Regions from separate parts of the Homo sapiens genome. Here region 2 is linked to region 1. Evidence: fine-mapped expression QTL. A gene starts in region 1. The other region holds a variant in brackets. All regions are shown on one strand. Distances are from middle to middle.

Region 1 (2,895 bases):
AAGCCCATCTGCCTTGCTGTGGTTACTCAGGCTCTTTGGACTGGGCCTGGCTTCCTGCCTCTCTTCTCCTCCCCTCTTGCCCCAGTGTACTCCTCAGCTTGGCCACCCTGAGCTGCTTTCCACTTTTCACACAAACCAAATCATCTTTTTCCTCTGCGCTGACTGCTCCTTCTTCCTCGGTGCCTGACTAGCCCTCACGCATCCTTCCGTGACTCAGCTTACACTCTTTTCTTCCAGAAACCTCTGCCTGGGCCCCAAGGTTGGGTGAGATAAGGCTCGATGCCCCTTATCAGTGCTCCTGTGACATATGCTACTTTCCCCAGCAGCAGGTGTTTGCTGGCACTGTCATTGCCCGTTAGCTGCTTCTGCTACAGTGTGAACTCTGCCAGGATGGAAATATGGCTGCTGGGTTCACAGCTGGATCCCCAGCACCAGACTGTGCCAAGAATAGAATATGTGCTTAAAAGATGGTCAGAGAATTCAGCAACGTTCCCTGAGGGTCATACAGTCTAGAAATACACACAAGACCCAGACTAGATGCACATATAGATAGCCCTGGAAAAATAAGAAAGGTTAAAACGGATAATAAGGCTATTTGGTGGCTACGACGAGTTTATTAGAGAGGGCAACCGGAGCCCCCAGCCCCACTCACGGACGTTCTCTCAAATCCACCTCTGAAGGTGCATGAGATAAAGGAGAGCTATTTACTGCACCTAGACGCCAGGCAATGAAAACGGGGTGAGGGTCGAGGGCAGGGATCTGAGGAGCCACATCAGGCCAGCCTTACCTTCATGTTGTCAGGGGGGTCTCCTTGGCCTGTAGTTGCACAAACAAATATCACCAGGGGCTCGTTAATCAGATTCACCTCAACAAAAAGACACACACACGTAAGACCTCCGGCTGTAAGGACCGGGCGTCCTTCCCAAAACTTGACCCCCTTCTCCTTTACTCAGGCTGACAGGGCAGAGGGATTTATGTGAGCAGCCAGACCGTCTTCTCTTTCAGGTTCCAACCTCCTCCAGGTGCTAAACTGAACTCCCCTTCCCAAACCTCCTTCCCTAAATCCGCCATAAGGGAAAGACCCGCTCTCAGAGAAAATGCGACGCCTTTTGGGTCGATGACCCCGCGAGGCGGGCACGCCAGGCCTGCTCGTCCCCCACGCCGAGGCCCTAGCGAGCCCTCACCACCGGGTAGGAGTCCAGGGCCTGCACCCGGCAGCCAAGCCGCCGGCGCCGGGCCTCGCGACCCAGTCTCTCCGACACATCCTGAGCCGTGCCTGTCTGGCTGCCGAAGAGCACCAGAAGCTGCGGGCTCGGCATCGGGGTGCGCCCGGTGGTCTGGTCTGAGACTAAAAACTAGAAGGCAGTTCCCGCCGGCCGGGTTGCAGGGACCGCTCCGCCTTCCGCCTTCCGCCGTCGACCGGAAGTGACGCACTAGGGACGCGCCCTGTGGGGGCATGGCGTCCGATCGAGGCGGGCGTTCACGGGCGGCCAGGGTTGAGTCCCGGGTCGGGGCCGGGGGATTGCCGGCGCATCAGGGCCGAGGGCTGGGGCTGGCGGGGCCGCTCGCTGCCTCTCGCTCGCAGCAGCGGCGGCAGGCGCGGGCGAGGGCCACGGGGAGAGGAGACGCAGCCCCGCGGGTGGCACGCTCGGCCGGGCCCCGGCCCGCGCTCAACGGGCGCGATGCTCTTCTCGCTCCGGGAGCTGGTGCAGTGGCTAGGCTTCGCCACCTTCGAGATCTTCGTGCACCTGCTGGCCCTGTTGGTGTTCTCTGTGCTGCTGGCACTGCGTGTGGATGGCCTGGTCCCGGGCCTCTCCTGGTGGAACGTGTTCGTGCCTTTCTTCGCCGCTGACGGGCTCAGCACCTACTTCACCACCATCGTGTCCGTGCGCCTCTTCCAGGATGGAGAGAAGCGGCTGGCGGTGCTCCGCCTTTTCTGGGTACTTACGGTCCTGAGTCTCAAGTTCGTCTTCGAGATGCTGTTGTGCCAGAAGCTGGCGGAGCAGACTCGGGAGCTCTGGTTCGGCCTCATTACGTCCCCGCTCTTCATTCTCCTGCAGCTGCTCATGATCCGCGCCTGTCGGGTCAACTAGCCTCACCGAGGTGCCGGAGAGGGAGCGCTGGACAACTAGAATGTTGACCTCGAGCCGAGGCCCTACTTGCAGCGCACCGGAGGAGAGGCTCTCTAGTCTGAAGGCACCGCCGGCTTGCGCCGAGCTGAGTGCCGGGTTTCCCTATTCCAATCCTGTTTGAAATGGTTTCTTCAGCAGGGCTTAAAAGAGCAGCCTTCATCCTGAAAATGTATTTCCTTTTGTTTAATGCTTTGAGTAGATAATCCTGAATTGAGGTCATGAGGAGGCCCCCCAGGCCAGACAGTCCTGAACCCCTCTGACACTTGGAAACTGAATATAAGTAAAATGTCCAGGTGGACTCTGAGTATTTCCTGTGGATCCTGGGAAAGTACTGTTGCACAAAGGCTGCAAAGCTGGACTCAGGAATGTCCTCCAACCAGCAGCGCTGACCTAAGAGCTCCCTGTGCCGTCTATCCAGACCAGACTTCGGTAGATGCCTTTGTTAGATCTATCACATGTAAACGAGCTTGTATCTCCTTCCCTGTGCCACGAGAGAGATTGGCTTTTTATTCCAGTCTAGGCAGAGACAGAAGAATGTTGAATAAGAGCACGATTAGAGTCCTGTCTGGTTATCTGTTGCCCAAGAAAAGAACTCTGCTGTCCAGGCACTGCTTGGCTTACTATCCCAGCAAAGACTGCAGTTTTGTGGACTTTTGACCACCTTGGGCTGGCACTCTTAGCACACCTGAGACAGATTTAAGCCTCCCTAAGAGACTGAAGAGAGGAACAGGTGTCAGATACTCATAGGCACTGAGATCTACAA
Region 2 (2,895 bases), 32 kb before region 1:
ATCAGCATTGTCCTTCTGGGGCGAGGGCCTGCAGCTGTGCTCACTCCTCGGGGGTCTGTTGCCAGTTTGCCATCCTGTCCAGGAGGGTGGCCTCCCCCACAGATCAGCCCAGGAAGGCGGGCCTGGCTTCCAGTGACCACTGTGACACAGGCCTTGACCCTCAGAGGGACTGGGGTCCTGCAGCGGCCTGAGGGGTGCACAGGTTGCTGCCAGCCATCCCAGGTTTCTCCTAGTGCCCAGGGCATCCTGGGGTCCTGCAGAGTAGCTCAGCTGTCCAGGCAGTAGTCAGGGACATGTTGGAGTCTCATAACATTGAGTTGTCACAAAGGGGAGAAGGAGAAGCTCTGTTTTTTTCCTCAGTGAACTGTGCAGAGCCCAACTGAGGCTGCTCTTTGAGGTGTGTGGCATTCCTGCACCTTGTCAGAGTCTCCCAACCCCTCTCCAGTAAAGGCCCCTGCTTCCTGTGACCAGTGCCCACAGGGCTGGGAGGTCAGTGTGCCACCCGTTTCACAGGTGTCACCTGCCCAGGTGAGAGCCCCAGAGCTCGCCATGGCACCAGCTTGCCTACTTTGCCCTTGCATTGCCCTGGTGAGGTGGACACTGGCTGGGGACAAGACAGCAGTAGACACCCTGAAGCCTGGGCCTGAGCCCAACAAGGACAGCAGCCACCCCTGTTGCACAAAACTGGTTGGGGAAGGCTCTGTAGGTCCCACCCTGAGCCAAGGTGCCCTGCTGCAGGATGGAGAGGCGGGATAGTGTGGGGCAGGAGGACCAACTCCTGGGCCTGGGGTCTGTGGCCAGGCAGGATGTGGTCCAAGGAGGGCCAGAAGGGCAGGGAAGCGGGGCAGGCGTGGCTGTGGGAGTGCTGGGCACCTGCCCTCCTCCTCCTGCAGCTGTCGGAGGATCCACAACGAAGGCTCTGTTTACTGGTGGCCATGGTCCCAGTGGGAGGGTGTGTTACCGCCAGGCAGGGACAGCAGGCAGACAGTATTGGCTGCCTTAAAGGACCAGACGCCCAGCCTTTGTGGGAGGCCTCACCTGCCCTGGAAGGACAGGTGCATGGGGTGCTTCCTCCCTCTCTCCACAAGGGCCTCACTGATCCCCCCCCAAAGGACAGGGGAGCTCCCCGGCCCCTCAGGCTCCCCAGGGAGCTAGCCAGGCTTGTCCCCTACAGGGGTGCCAGACGGTTCTATGAGGCTGATGTCAGGTCCACAGGGGCGTCCTAGAATCACAGGGCTGTGAGAACCAAAGCTCTAGCTGCTGGGGGTCCCATTCTCACTGGAGCCCACCCCTGAGGCACCCCTGGCTCCCAGAGCAGGTGGTCACCTCCCTCGGTAGGTGAAACCAAGGCCCAGGAGGCCTAAGAGTTTGAGGGGTGGCTGGGGCAGAGGACCCAGGGAAGACTGGGGGCCAAGGGCACAGAGGGTCTGGGGGTCATGAGCAGGGGCAAAGGGAAACTGAGGGCAGAAAAGAACAGAGCCACAGAGGAGAAGTGGCC[G/A]TGGGGCCCCCTCAGGCCTCATCTTCCTGAGTGGCTGCACCTCTATCCCCTAGTGGGGTCTGACCAGGCAATCCTGGGAGGCTCTGGGAAGAGAGCTGCCCCCCAACAGGGCTGCAGTTCTGGAAGGGAGAACGTGACTGGCCACAGCAGCAGACTCAAATGAGCAAACTAGACCTGTCCCTGATGGGACCGTCCCCTCACCCACCCGTCTCTGTGTGCCTGAATGAATGCTCCAGTTCTGGGGTAACCCAAGGCTTTCTTCCCTTGGCGGGAGTGGGGGTTGGGTTAGGGCTGTGGGCAGCTCTGGGCTAGAGGTGGCAGGAGCCCCCCCTCAACTTCCTAGGTGTCCAGTTACCCATTGGCTGGCAGACAAGCCTTCCTGTGTGGAAACCCGACCACACAGCAGAGGGAGGGCCCCCTGGCCCCCAAGTCCTCCCCATGGGTGCTGTCCGCCCTCCTGGGCCCACCCCACGGACAGGCCTTCCCGGGACAGGGTCTCATTCTCCGTGGCAGTGGGAGGCCTCAGTGTGCCCCAGCCTGGCGGGTGAGACTGGCTTCCTGGTGGGTTCTGGGAGCTGAGCACCTGCCGTGGCCCAGCCCTGCAGAGAAGTGTCCCCGAGGGGCCCAGCCCAGGACCGGCTGAGAGACACAGAGGGCAGACAGACAGGTGGTGCCTCTGGGACCACCTGGCCCTCCAAGCCGTCAGGGTCCCTTCTCACACCCCACGCACCTGATGGGACTCCAGTCCCCACCCCAACCATGACATCCGCCGGGGCAGAGGAGCTCCGGGATCCCCCACACCCTGCACCACCGGCCCTGCTCCCTGCTGGCTGGGCTCTCCCCTGCGCCCCCAGGAGGGGCCCCAGCTCCCACTGTGGGAAGTCCCCGCCCCCCCAGGCCCGCCATTCCTTGGGAGCTTCTGTCCCCAGCGGCTGCCGTGAGAAACACACCTTGGGGTGGGCGGGCTCCTGTGCCTGAGCCCCAGGCCCCGGAGTGTCCACCAGGAGGCAGCATCGGGCTGCTTCCCCCACCTGCGCAGGCGGCCCCTGTCTAGGGGAGTGAGGACCGCCACCCCAGATAACAGCCTGGTTTATTTGCACAGAAGGGGAAGCAGGTGACCGGAGGTCAGCTGCCGCGGGGACCCCCCCTCCAGGGCCCTCCAGAGCCCTCCCAGCCGGGGAGGGTGGGGCGGTCTGCTCAGCAACTGCCCGTCACAACTGCTGGGAGGCCAAGATCTCAGGGTTCTCGTAGCAGTAGGCCTCTTTGGTGGTGGCCTTCGGGGGGCTGCAGACGTTGCAGGGGCAGCAGCGGGTCACCAGGCGGTCCCAGGGCTCCAGAGAATGGAGCCAGACGGGGAGCCAGGCCCAGGAGCGCAGGCGGACAGGCAGCCAGGCCGG

The links.
Region 2: its variant is fine-mapped to the expression of NDOR1 in whole blood (TOPMed, PIP above 0.99).

Annotation. Positions count from the first base shown.
Region 1 is chr9:137,204,202-137,207,096 of GRCh38, reverse strand. NDOR1 (NADPH dependent diflavin oxidoreductase 1) reads right to left here and starts at 1,397. Exons shown (of 14, transcript NM_014434.4): 1 at 1,185-1,397; 2 at 788-865. The coding sequence starts at 1,319. It overlaps TMEM203 (transmembrane protein 203), which reads left to right and starts at 1,449. Exons shown (of 1, transcript NM_053045.2): 1 at 1,449-2,895. The coding sequence starts at 1,683. The coding sequence ends at 2,093. RefSeq lists a silencer at 1,434-1,693.
Region 2 is chr9:137,236,231-137,239,125 of GRCh38, reverse strand. SLC34A3 (solute carrier family 34 member 3) reads right to left here. Exons shown (of 13, transcript NM_001177316.2): 13 at 2,571-2,895. The coding sequence ends at 2,710. Among named protein-coding and RNA genes, the nearest start is that of TUBB4B, 3.6 kb to the left of the region's middle. RefSeq lists silencers at 2,184-2,413, 2,434-2,763. The variant G/A (reference allele first, on the strand shown) is at 1,499.